2 linked regions of the Homo sapiens genome follow. The protein of the gene in region 2 interacts with the protein of the main gene of each other region in a pairwise test. Each region holds a gene or a part of one and is shown on either strand. Other genes may lie near its edges.

Region 1 (7,029 bases), on a different chromosome or scaffold from region 2:
TAGGCCACTTACCATATCCAGCCACTGCTGGGCACTGGTCATAGATGTACTTGGAGCAGATCTCACGTACCACACTGGCATCCACCTCCTGCAGGGTGAGGCAGAGGGCATACTGGCTAACGGGCACCTGGCCACCACCTCAGCCAGTCAGCATCATCCAACTAGCAGAGATCTCCCACAGGCAGCATGCAGCTGTCCCCAGCCCAAAAGAGGAAAGGCAGAAGGGATCCCTGCTATAGACCTCCATGGGCCCCGCCCATCTCCACAGCCATCAGCACCTATGCCCTGCCCTCCCACTATGCTACCCCTGCAGGTGACAGCTGCCTAGGACACCAGGGATGCCTATAGGAGCAGGCTGCGCTATGCCAGGCCCCAACCCTACACCTCCCAGGTGTCTGCCAGGCCAAGACTCCAGAACCTCTCCCAGGGGTCCATGTTACCGCAATCCGGCTTTCCCATTCAGCCAGGGGGATGCGGCGGCCATAGGTCAGGAGGCTGCGTCCGATGTCCTCACACACAGGAGTAGTGCCTTTAAGGGTGAGAGAAGGCTCAGAGGTCCACCCAGCCCAATCCTGGACCCACAGGTACACAAACAATCTCCAGCCTCAGGTTGACAAGGACCTCCCTGACCTCATGCTGACTCAGATCACAGCCCTCTCTTCTATGGTCACCTATTATGGCAGTGATGGGCTGTGGACCTGTCTCACACCTGCCTGCATCTCCAAGGGTGGGGTGATGGGGCATGGCGTGGTCTTCAAAGTTTTCCTTTCTAACCTTGGTTAGTTAGGAGCAGTGGCCACCTTGGTGCTGTCGCTGGCAAGATGTACTCTACCCCTCCCCGCTGAGCTGTAGGACTCACCATCTAGATGAGATACCAGGGCATTTCTGAGGATGTTTTTGCCCCGGGCCACCTCACTCTCCGTGGCACTGGTACACAGGCGCATCCTAAAGTGGGGGGGTGGGTGGTATTCATTCTGAGCCAGTGTGTCATCTCTCAGCCTCCCACTGTGCTGGTTAAAGCCGCCATCCCACCTAGGAATACCAGGCTGCCACTTACCACTGCCCTTGCAGGACGAACATCATGTCATCGATTTTCATTCGGTCACAGACAAAGTGTGCACCCAGCAAGCCCGTCTCTGCATAGCAGATGCTGAAGGTCTGGAAACTCTGGCATAGCTTGTTGGCCACAGCACCTGAAGCCAGTGGGCTGGACAGGTGCTGCCAGGGGGATAGGTGGTCAGCACCCACCCTCTTGTCTTCAACGCACACTGTGACCCCCACGCACAGGAGCACACAGCCCCAGCACCCTCTCTTCCCTGAAGGCGAGGTCCCATGCTCGCGCTGGCACTCACCACGCCACCACCATAAGTGCAGTCATAGTGGCCGATGATGGCATTGGCCACTTGCAAGGCCACATTGTCCGGGCTGGCCCAGCCAGGACCCTCTACTGCAATGGCCACGTGGGCAAAAGGTAGAGCATCATCACGGTGGCGGATCTGAAACAGTACATGACAAGGCTGAGGAACAGCCAGACTGCCAGGGGAACAGAAAAGGTGGCAGGTGTGGGTAGAGGGTGTATGTGTGTGAACATGTGTGCCTGTGATGCAGCAGCCACAGAACCCCTTCCCAACTGCTGAGGTATCTCTGGAGTCACCAGGATAACCATGCACATGGGGGTCCTCCCACAGGCCCCCAGCTGAGCACTACTCCTGCCCAAAAGGCAGCATACCTCACTGCCAGTGAAGCGGCATGGAGTAAGAGTGGGCACAGCGTCCTCTGCATATGTCCATGGGATGCCACCGAGGTGCTTCTGGGCGAGGTCTAACAGTTGCTGGTGCTCCACTCCTGCTGAGACAGACAGTGGCATTACTGACCAGCCAGGGCCCAAGGCACAGGGTGGGGCGATTCACAGACAGGCAGAGGACCCCCATGTCCTGTCTTAGTGGGAGAAACCAGGAGTATGTGACATTAGAACAGGGTGAGGAAAGAAGGTCCTCCTCAGACAGACCCTGCCTTGTGGACAGGACAGGCACCTCAGGGCCAAATAGCTCCCATGGCCTCAGTCCCAGGAGAGCAAAAGCGTTCAGAGTTTCAAAATGGGCTGCCATGTGATCCAAGTGTGGGTTCTCACTTGAGAAGATGCATTCCACCTACATCAAGGACAAGACTGGTACTCCTGGGCACAAAGCCACCTGGCCTGCCTTTTCCCTCTAGCTCTCCCTCAAGTATTTCTGGCTGCTGGCCCTGCAGGGGGTGGCAAGTGAGGGGGCAGAAAGAGGAGCTATTACAGGGCTGTGATTAGCTCTTGGGTCCCCTGAGAGCTGGGGACATTTGCAAATAATGTTACAAACGTATACCCTAGGACTCCTTGGATCTTGCCTCCTCACCTCCACAAGAGGAGGGCTCTGTGGTGCCACCAGTTGCATTGGCCTTTTTTTTTTTTTTTGAGACGGAGTCTCGCTCTGTTGCCCAGGCTGGAGCACAGTGGTGCAATCTCAGCTAACTGCAAGCTCCACCTCCCGGGTCCACGCCATTCTCCTGCCTCAGCCTCCCGAGTAGCTGGGACTATAGGCGCCCGCCACCACGCCTGGCTAATTTTTTTGTATTTTCAGTAGAGACGGGGTTTCACTGTGTTAGCCAGGATGGTCTCGAGCTCCTGATCTTGTGATCCGCCCGCCTCGGCCTCCCAAAGTGCTGGGATTACAGGCGTGAGCCACCGCGCCCGGCCTGCGTTGGCCTTTCATTCCTTCCTTCCATGAGCTCAAGCCCTGCTAGTCTGACACACACGTCAGATTGCTCTTGCCCCCAGGTTCCCCAGCTCCAAAGCCCCTGGTCATGCTCTTCCTATTGGTCTTTTCTGCACACTCAGCCGCCAAGGTCATAAGCTGGGAAGCATGTTTGTTTTTTTTTTTTTTTTTGAGATGGAGTTTCACTCTGTTGTGCAGGCCGGAGTGCAGTGGTACAATCTCAGCTCGCTGCAACCTCCGTCCCCCGGGTTCAAGGGATTCTCCTGCCTCAGCCTTCCAAGTAGCTGGGATTATAGGCAACTGCCACCAAGCCTGGCTAATTTTTGTATTTTTACCAGAGACGGGGTTTTGTCACGTTGGCTGGGCTGGTCTCGAACTCCTTACCTCAGGTGATTCACCCACCTCGGCCTTCCAAAGTGCTAGGATTACAGGCGTGAGCCACCACGACCAGCCAAGATGGGAAGCACCTTGACCTCAGTTCCTTACCCATGTCCAGACCCCAACCAGGTTCCATCTATAAAACCACCTGGAGTCCATCTACTGCTCCCCCTTGCTCCTGCCATCTCCTGCCCAGTCCCTGCCACAGCCCCTCTCTAGCCAGCCTACCTGCACTGTGACCCCACACAGCAGCAGAGCAAACCTTAGACCATGACACTGCTCTTCCCCTGCGCTCAGCTCCCCACACCCCACCTAAATAACACTCACCACCTTTCAGGCTTCTGTTCAAACTACAGGTGCTTTAAAAAGCCCCTCCCCCAAACTCCAACTCTGAGTCCCCAGTGAAATCTTCCCCACCCTTCTGTGCCTTCCTTTCAAGGCACTTCTTGGTTTGTTATCAGGCATGCATCAACACACAACTAATGGCTGGCTCTCCCAAGGGCAAGGCCACAAGGAACAAGGCCAGGAGCTTACATCCCCTACCAGCCCATGAACTCAGTATCCTAGAACCAGGTGGGGCTAAGACAGACCTGTACCAGAGGGACAGCATCCTGTGTAACCAGTCCCAGTGGTGGCGGCAGGGTAGAATCCTATCCCACCTCAGAGAGCACAGGAGGAAGGTCATTCCCCTCAAGGTTAGGGTGGGAGCAGAGTCCCCTGGGGTGAAAGGTCCCCTATGGTGGGAACCAGGACCTCGGCTTTGATAACCAAGGCTGGGACCCCACTACCCAGGACTTCAGTGATTCCATCACTCACCTCCAGCTGCTGCCAGCACCATTCGAGGGGCCTTGTAATGTGTGCTGAGGTACTCGGTCAAGTCTGCACGAGACAGCTTCCTACAAGACATATGGTCAGTGTGTCAACACCTCTACCACACTGGAGTGAGTTGGGGTACATGCATGAATGGGACTGAGGAGGCAGACTAGGAGAGGCATGGTTTCTCCGAAGAGTGGGCCCTAGCACACTCCCCAACCCCCTTCCCCTGTCTCTGCCACCCACCCCTCCAGGGCCCAGAGGGCAACCCTTGTCTGCCCTTGCCTCATGCCTGACTTCAGGACAGGCTCATAGTCTTCTCTGAGAAGGCGTGAGCCAACACTGTGGGACTCTCAAAAGGGCAGCATCAAAGCTCCCGGAGCCATCCACAAAGGAGACAAGAGACCACATGGAGGGGACACCCAGACACTTCGCCCTTGGACTGTCAGGACATGCACCAAAACATACCTTAAAACAAAGCCCAAAATTCAAGTGAAGCCCACAAAGCCATTAAAAAAGACTCACTGGACCACATGGATACAGAAACTGTCTCCAGTTGCATAACTCAGGAAAATAACCCCGACAGCTAGCCAACTAAAAATGTGACCTGGAAAGGGTCTGGCCAGGCCAGAATGGAGCAAGCATCCCCCCACAAGGCCAGCCAACTCTCACCTGACATTCTCACTGGGCCCCTCCACAGCCTGGGCTAGAGGTGTGCCCTGGAATGCTGTGGCATGCAGGTAGTTAAAGACCACATCTCGCATAGATGCATCATTCTCCTGCATCTCCCGCAGGATCACATCACGTTCCTTCTCAATCTGTGAGTCTTCCAGACTACAGTTCTGCACAATGTCACCCAGGAGCTCCACAGCTAGATGCAAGGAGGACATGTTTAGGTGCCAGGTGGACCACTGCAGACCAACGACAGCACAAAATCCCCAGGCCTGGCATCTCCTGCTGCCCACCCCTAGTTGCCCAGCTGCAAAGCCATACGCTAAGGGTAATATGATTCTGTGGTCAGCCAGGGGCTCCTAGGTAGCTGTCCTCTGCTTCCCTGCCCTCTGTCCCCGCCTCTTCCTCCAGGTGTTACCTTTCGGCAGATCCTTGGACAGCGCCTTGATGTAGTAAGCTGTGTGCTCCCGGGTGCTGTAGGCATTAAGATGGGCCCCCATGCTCTCCACCTCCTTCTCCAGGGCACTGCCAGGCCGATTCTTTGTTCCCTGGAACCAGATATCAACCAGAACAATCAGGAGCTACACAGGAACCCAAGAACCCTGTCCTCAGAGGCTAAACACCCAGCAGGACCACTGGTCCACAGGTACCTCCCTCAGCATAGACTCTGGGGACACAGATCCCAGAGTCTGTTTACCAAGCACTAAGCAGGCCTTGAGGTGACCAAAACCATGGCATCATGCGCCAACAGAACAGAGATAGCCAGGGCCAGGACTGAAGGGCATGGCCAGAGCAAGTGTTGCCTAAAGCTCCTGTAACAGCTTACCAACAAGCTGTGGGGATCATTACCAGTACACCTCCCCCCTCCTTATTGACAGCCATGGTCAGGTAAGCCCACACCTGTGTTCAAGTGATAGAACCCACTCCTCCCATGCCATTCCCATGACTGTATGTTTGTGAATACATGCTAGTGGCCTCTGTGGGACCCAATCCTAGTCCTGTGTGTGGAGAACAGTGGTGCTATCTCTTGGTGTGCACACACACGTTAATTCTGCACACATACCTGTGACATTGCAGCTGGCTAGGTTGCCTACTATGGCTCCATGGCCCTGCCCACCCCATAATCCTTCTCCATGTTTTTCATTCCTTTAAAAAACATGGGTCTTTACAACCAAGGGATGCCTAGATATTCCACCAGAGAAGAACATTTCATAAGCAAGCATGCATGCCCATGTCTGTGGGTTTGTTAAAATGCATGTGCATATCTACGTGTGTTCCACAGGCCTGGCTTCTCTGGTGAAAAGTGGGGCTCCTATGGTTCCTTGGGTCCTCTTGGCTCTGAGGGCCTCAGGCAGGGGCTCATCAGATACGTGCCCACTCAGGAGAGGTTAAGCTCATGTGGCTCCTTTTAGGAAAGCCAGCCAGACATCAGCCCCGCAACTGAGGCCCATAATCAGGCTAATTTTTCTGACCTTCATCCTCAGGAGGGACAACAGGCAGCCCTAAGCCCAGAGGAGACAGACTTTAAGAGCCTCACCTTGAAAGCCAGATGCTCCAAAAAGTAGCCTGCCCCATTATTCTTCTCAGTCTCAAAACGGCTGCCAACATCAATCCACACTCCCACCTGGTCAAGAAGCCACCAGAAAAGGTTACAAACAAACCACTCCCCAGCCCCCTACTCACACCCCACCTGAGTGACTCAGTACAAGCCCCAGGCAGGGACTTATGAATCCTGGAGTCAGGGAGAGCTGCCCCAGCAGGACCCCTGTGCTTGGGGACACAGTCATGCTTGGAAAACAGGGGCAGCCGAATGACTCGTCACACCACATCATTGCTCTCCTGATTGGCTATCAAGGACCCACAGGGACACTTCTAACTGTGCACATTTACCTGGTCTCACCAGCATACAAATCCTTAAATTCACTCTCAATTTTCAGTTAATTATTTGTTTTTGTCTAAGCATACAACATATCATTTGCAAATAACAACTTATTTTTTCCTTTCTAAAAATTACACGCTGCCTTTGTTCTGGCAATGATTTTATCCTTTCATCATTAAGGAAGGGACTATTGGTTTAGACTGTATATTTTATCACACTAAATATTGTTCCTATAATATCTTTTTTGTTGTTGTTTTTAATCAGCTCTGAACACCAAACAGTGTTGCCTTGGCACCCAATAAGGTAATATTAATTTTCTTGACAGCCTCCTGGTTGCTGTGAAACACGCACCACAGGCTGGGCGCGGTGGCTTATACCTGTAATCCCAGCACTTTGGGAGGCCAAGGCAGGTGGATTACGAGGTCAGCAGTTCGAGACCAGCCTGGCCAATATAGTGAAACCCTGTCTCTACTAAAAATACAAAAATTAGCCAGGTGTGGTGGCACGTGCCTGTAGTCCTAGCTACTTGGGAGGCTGAGG
Region 2 (7,029 bases):
CTGTTCCTGGTTTCTCTGTCATAAAATACAAAAACAACCAATTAACTACCTCAGAGGTACCTTTGTGAAGATGAATGACAAATAATGACTGGATGAAAATATTAGTAATAATACTGAGGTGAAATGCAACGTAAACAATAAATACAAACTTTATTTCAAAATATAGAGACAAAGAAGTGAATTCTGATAATTCCATTAGTAAGACAACTGCAAAACATGTAAAACACAAAGTCAAATTCAGATATTTTCAGAGTATCTACACTTAAGACAGTGGTCTTAAATATGATCCCTATATGAGCAGCATCAGTGTCATCTATGAAATTTTTGTTTTTTTGAGACAGGGTCTTGCTCTGTCACCTAGGCTGGAGTGATCATGGCTCACTGCAGCCTCGACCTCCCAGGCTCAAGCAATTCTCTCACCTCAGTCTCTGAGTAGCTGGGACTACAGGCACATGCCACCACACACAGCTAATGGGAAACTGTTAGAAATGCAAATGCTCAGGTCCCACCCCAAACCTACTGAAACTCTGGGGACAGGACTCAGTCATTGGTATTTTAACAAGCTCTCTAGGTGATTCTGACATAGACTGAAGTCTGAAAAACAGAGCTTCAAAGTAGGAAAAATAACAAAAAGGGTTTGTATAAAGCTCAGTAGGGGCCAAATGAAAGAAACTCTAAATGAAATAGATAAGCAGGTTATGGCTTGACTTTCATTAAAACAATACAAAATGAAAAAGTAACCTCCTCCCACAAATATAATTAAATAGGAAATCCAGTAATCATATCTATACAGTCAAATCACAGATTAGGTGAAACTGGATGTTCTCAAAAGCAACTGCAAACTACCACTGGTGAAATTTCACAATGCAAGGAGACCAAGATTACATGAACCCTCTTTTGTGTGATGGCTAAATGTTAAGAACACATTTACTGACATTTTCAAAATTGGGCATGAAAGGTACAAAATCATGGTCTAGAAGTTTTGGTAACTCTTAGGATTTGGAAAGTCTCTCTCCTGCTATTGTTACCTCACTGATGTGAGGAGCTCATTTTATCCAGTACAACTTCAAAGACGTGCTTTATGTAATAAAGTTATTTCTATACCCATAAGAAAAACCAATCTTTCTCATGATCAGTTTTCTAAAAAGAATCAAACTTACAACAAATTTTCTCTACCCTTACAATGGAATTCTCTTTATGTCTTCTACTATAAAAAGAGTCCTTTATTGTCACATCTTGTGCCTCTTTTAACTTAACTCACCTAGGCCTACCAAAGAACATTGTCAAGTTACTAACCCTGGCTGGGGTGCTTCTAAACCATCAATGCCTGGATCCACTGCAGGACAATTAAATTAGAATCTATGAATGAAGGCCCTGGTAGTCAGTACATCTAAGTTATCCAAATGATTCTAACATAAAAACAGGGTTGAGAACATCTGGATTAGTTTAAAGATAGGTACTTCCTTTTTCCTGTTCAGTTCTGAACATTTCTTTTCATCTGTTAATTTGTTCGGTAGTACAGGGAAGGGAAGGGAAATAGCTTTGAAGATCATTATGTGTTAACATATCATATATGCAATTTTCCTTTAATCTTTCAGCAAGCCCCATAAGGCTGACATTGTTATTCCCATACTATATGTAAGAAGATGAAGCTCAAAAATTTGATTTTCTCAGGAGCACACAATTACTAAGTTCTAGAGCTACAACTAAAATTCAGGTTTGACTTCAAAACTGTTTCCCCTACCTTAAGTTTCTATAAAAACTCAATTTCATCTTATAAGTCTTAAAAAAAAATGAATCTCTGAACCTTGACAATTATTTAAAACAACAAAATCATACTGAAAGAAAACAATCTGCATTTACTCTGGCCTGCTTTATTACATAATTTTTTTCTGAGAAAGGTGTGGTTAATTAATACCCTTTCTGAGTAAGGTGTGGGTAATTAATACCCTCCAGCAATGAGAGGTGTTCTACCTCTGAGCTTTTGTTCTTTCATTTAAAAAAAAAACACTGAATGCTTAATCAAATACTCTACTGAACACTCCAGATTAAAAAACAACACATGTTGAAGATACATAAACTTGAATATGAAGTGGGACAGCAATTTATAAGGACTCCCAAGGTTTCTAGCTTTTTTCATCTTAATTTCTGCACACTGTAGGAATCAGATTAAAAACAGGATGAAAGAACCCTTGCCCAAATAGGCCACACAAATTAACTTTTGTGATTCTTGTTTTCTGTCGAGTCCCATCATTTGCTCAAATTAACACATACCGTAAACTGGGCTAACCTTGTCTCTCAACAAAAATAACATTATTTCTTTGTTTTAACCAGTTCTACATAAAAAATTTTTTTGAAGACATGGGGTCTCACTATGTTGCCCAGCCTGGTCTCAAACTCCTGGGCTGAAGTGATTCTCCCTACCTCAGCCTCCCAAGTAGCTGGGACAACAGGGGAAACATCACTGCAACCAGCTAATTCTACATAATGTTTAGATAGATTTTTCCTAAGAGCTCAGTTCTTTTACAATAACTTACAATTCTTTAACTTAACTGTATGATTAATTATATGCTATATAATTTTATAATTAAAAACTAATCTCAATATATTATCTTTAGATTCATTTCAGAAATTAATTGTATATAGTTACGAAGAAGCCAAATCTGTTTCTTCATATAATAAGCTTATCAGTTGTAAATGTCAACATTAAATTCAATCATTTGGAGAGTTTTTCTTTTATAAAGTAATACAGAATGAAAAACTTGCAATATGAACTACTAAACAAAATTTACTTAACAAATATCAAAGCCTCCACAAATGCTTTCCATAATATTGAAAAACATATACGTGATACTTTTTACAGGGCAACAAATGCCTAATTTGGCACTAGTTCAGGACTAAATCAGAAATGTGGATTTCTGTTTTATTTATTTTTTGTTTTGTTTTATAAAATGAGACAGGGTCCCGCAACGCTGCCCAGGCTGGTCTCGAACTCCTGGGCTCAAGCGATCCGCCTGCCTCAGCCTCCCAAGTGCTGGGATAACAGGCGTGAGCCACCACACCCCGCCAGAAATGTAGATTTCTAATCTAACCTAGATGTGTTAAGAAGGAATCTGAACATTTACCAAACATTTAAATGTCATAAAAGGGCTTACATCGATTTTATCAATATACATAGTTAGTAAAAAAAAAAATAATTACACGAGGCTTTTTAAAAAAATATTAATTTATCTAAATTTTGGGAAAATATTGTTCTAACTACCTTTTTCCAGTCTTCTGATGGAATATAATCTTCATCTTCTTCAGATTCTTCTTCTACTTCACTATCTAGAATAAATAAGACACCAATACTATAAAATGACTGCTTATCCTGTCTAAATCTACATATTATTTTTACATCTACCATCAAATATTTGGATATGCTCAAAGATATCTAATGAATTAAGCCAAGATATTTCTAACCAAATAATTAACACCCTATCACTTAAAAAAACAAAACCAAAAAAACCATAAACTTTCTACATAATTGTATTCTCATGAAATGATTTCCTATAAAAACTTAGGGGAAAAAACTGATTTAGAATAAAGATAATATTATCTTACTACATATTTCATGACAGTTTATTTTTCTTCAAGTGTTTTTCTTCCTTTTAAAGTAGAGAAATTTAGGTGTATTTATGAATATACCTAAAAAAGGCTAAGAGGCAAAGAAAGTAAAAAATGGAAACTAAGGGAAAGACTATGAGAAACAAAAAGATGACCATGAAACAAACATTTAAAAACAGGGCAAAGAAAAAACAAATACACCCAAAGTCAAGTAGTACATGACACAATTACCATAGTATATTCACTAACAACAGGGACCCTGCATTGCTAAACTAATAACTTACAACAAAATCCATTTACTGTTGAAAAGAATTTCAGACTAAATGAATTCAAAGACCAGTTTAAAAAAGAGGATTTTAGGTAATACCTAAAATAGTAAAAATTATATTCAAATATTATCAACCAGTAACACTTACTTGTATCAAAATATTTACATCGACGTGGGCGGATTATTTCCTGGGCATCTTGAGAAGCAACAGATTGTGATGGATCATCATTGGAAGACTGAGTTTCATCCTCCTGACCTGATGAATCCTTTATATTCTCCTCCTGTGGAATAATAAATTAAATTTCTCTAAGATGTAAGGAAAACAGTTGCAGATGAAAGACCATAGCATATAAATTTTGTTCTAATATATGCAGAAGACTAAAATGAATATACTAGATGTAGTATCATCCTCTGGGTTGGTTCCTGCAACAGGAAAAAGTACATTAGCAGAAAAACTGGTATAATTCAATCTGCAGTTTAGTTAATAGCACTGTACCAAGATGTTAACCTTAGCAGAAGTTGAGGTAAGAGTATACAGGAACGTTCTATACTAACTTTAAACCTTTTATAAATCTAAAATTATTTCAAAATAAAGTAAGAAAAATAAACACAAACTGCCAATTAGCCTTTATTATTTAAAAGCAATAGCATTTTTTTAGAAAGTTGGTATAAATTAATTAGAATAAGCACTGGAAAAAAAGAAACCTGAAATGACAAGACCAAACTGTTACCTCAGGAGTAAATTACAGGGGATTTCCAATTTTTATATTATGTATTTCTGTAATATCTTAATTTTTAACACTTTTAAAATCAGGAAAAGATTATAAAGACAAGTAATCAAAATATATTAAGCAATTTTAACTTCAACAAGAATAAAGACTACAATCTTAAATATATGTATATAGACTTACTTTATTTTCCCCACTACAGCCACTGTTGTCATCATTATCAGCATCTTCATCATCTTCACCTTCTTCTTCCTCTTCTTCCTCTTCCTCATCTTCTTCAGGTAGTCGAACAGTACTACCATAACCATAAAGGCTGAGAAGTTCATGAATTGGCATGTCGCCTTCCTAAATAAATCAAAATAAAAGGTAATCTCTGAATCAGTGATATTTCTGATTCCCAGGCTATAATCCACAAATCTGTGGAGTATTCATTCTATAGTGAAGAATAAAAGCTGTGTTACGAATTCTCGGATCATAAAAAGTAAAACTGAAAATATTTCTGAAACCTAGGAATATCCCAATCTTTTAAGTATTTCTATAAAATGAACCAGTTATAATTGCTGACAACAAGATCTTTAAGTATAATTAAAAAGTGGCCTTGGTCTAACATGGACTATTCTTTTTGCAATCAATTCAGTATATGCACAATGACAGTTAACGCTATGCATGGATGCCCACTCTTAATAAGAGTACCATACTTAACTTGAGGGTGGAGAAATAGAACAATGAGAAATAGACTATAAGTTAACAAACCCAGAAAGGCAGACGAAAATTCAGAGCTCAGCCCGAACACATGAAAAAAAAAAAAAAAAAAAACACAAACAAACCAGTAGTAATATACAGAAATGATAATGGACTACATTAACCATATATTCTTCTCTATGGTTATCTCCATTTACATATAAAATCATCTCATGAAATCCTTACCATCTATCATACGGACTTGTTATATTATTTCCATTTCATAGATGCGAAAACAGAGGCTGACAGGTTAAGCATTTCTTCACAAATCACACAAGTTACAAGTAGTAGAGCCAGATTTAAACAGTCTAACTCCAAAAGCCCATATTCATATCAATACACCATGGTGCCTTGGGCAGGGACTTCCCTCAATCCCCACAAAAATCAGACCCTCCGTGGATGAAAAAGAAATGTCCATACACAATGAAATGAAATCAGCTTTCTATACAAACTACTCACTCTAACCAGTAAACAAGAAATGCACAGCATCAGGGAAACATAACAGAATTCTGATTATAAAAAGAAAATTTAATCCAAATCATGTGAACATATTATACACTCATGCACACCCACATACAATGCACATGGTCTGAAGCAAAACAGTCAGAAAACAATCAGTTTAGAAGCTAGAAAAAAAAGGGTAATCATGAAATAAGACATGGTTTATGTTTCTCCAGCAGTCATGGAAAGAAGTAAGTCTAGCTCATGTGTTAAACACATTGCTACAATGGATATGGGTAAATCAGACTGGATTAGATGATACAATTAACCTGCATCACTCAAAATCCATGTGTGGGAAGAAATTAATGATTATCATTTGAAAAGATTTTCTTAGGAAGAACTAGGAAGAAACTGTCATCCAAAACTTCTATTTCCCATTACAAATGGATATTCTGGTTATGAATGAGTTTGTGAATCTATTTCTGAAAGATAAATCAATTCCAAGACCCCTAATGATTTGCAGAAGCTACAACCTGAAAAGCGGTAACTTTATCAAGGCAAGGTATTGCCACTCTAGCTAAATAACCAGCTGGCAAACAAATGACAGCTCTTACACTGTGTCTCTCAAAGTACAACACCAACAGTGCTTTAAGTGTTCAAGTATCTGGTCCATGTACCAAGAATCTGGTACAGGACATTGGTATTTGGGAATCTGGAGAGTCAATACTCAGGAACTAAAACAAAACTTCAAAATAAGAGATAGAAGTGTAGTAAGAGAAATATAATGAAAAGGCTAGATTTATTTTTTGAGACAGGATCTTGCTCTGTCACCCAGGCTGGAGTGCAGTGGCATGATCACTGCTCACTGCAGCCTCAACCTTCAAATGATCCTCCCACCTCAGCCTCCCAAGTATCTGGGACTATACATGTGCACCACCATGCCTGGCTAATTTTTGTATTTTTCATAGAGAAGGGTTTCACCATGTTGCCCAGGCTGGTCTCAAACACCTGGATGCAAGCGATCTGCCCACCTTGGCTTCCCAAAATGTAGGATTGGAAACATGAGCCACCGTGCCCAGCCTAAAGCTAGTTTTATATACAAGAATAACAAATAGCTGTCATAAAGTATCTTCTATGTGTCAGGCATTTATGATAGATGCTTTGATTTCACTGTCTTTTTCTCTTGCAACCATGAAAGCAGTGTCAACACACACAATTTCATTAGATCTTTAGAAGTACCAAATG

What was found. The genes of interacting proteins can lie anywhere in the genome.
Region 1: the proteins of MIER1 (region 2) and UQCRC1 interact in binary tests that used the Homo sapiens proteins (3 or more experiments, as listed by UniProt).

What each region holds. Positions count from the first base shown.
Region 1 is NC_000003.12:48,599,623-48,606,651, forward strand, and holds part of UQCRC1 (cytochrome b-c1 complex subunit 1, mitochondrial precursor), read right to left. Parts: intron 6,235-7,029; coding exon 6,148-6,234; intron 5,529-6,147; exon of another isoform or gene 5,298-5,528; intron 5,159-5,297; coding exon 5,029-5,158; intron 4,810-5,028; coding exon 4,611-4,809; intron 4,022-4,610; coding exon 3,942-4,021; intron 1,846-3,941; coding exon 1,730-1,845; intron 1,497-1,729; coding exon 1,353-1,496; intron 1,219-1,352; coding exon 1,058-1,218; intron 946-1,057; coding exon 860-945; intron 530-859; coding exon 441-529; intron 89-440; coding exon 13-88; intron 1-12. UniProt on the Homo sapiens protein: Component of the ubiquinol-cytochrome c oxidoreductase, a multisubunit transmembrane complex that is part of the mitochondrial electron transport chain which drives oxidative phosphorylation.
Region 2 is NC_000001.11:66,955,977-66,963,005, reverse strand, and holds part of MIER1 (mesoderm induction early response protein 1), read right to left. Parts: exon of another isoform or gene 4,948-7,029; coding exon 4,786-4,947; intron 4,156-4,785; coding exon 4,023-4,155; intron 3,328-4,022; coding exon 3,263-3,327; intron 1-3,262. UniProt on the Homo sapiens protein: Transcriptional repressor regulating the expression of a number of genes including SP1 target genes. Probably functions through recruitment of HDAC1 a histone deacetylase involved in chromatin silencing.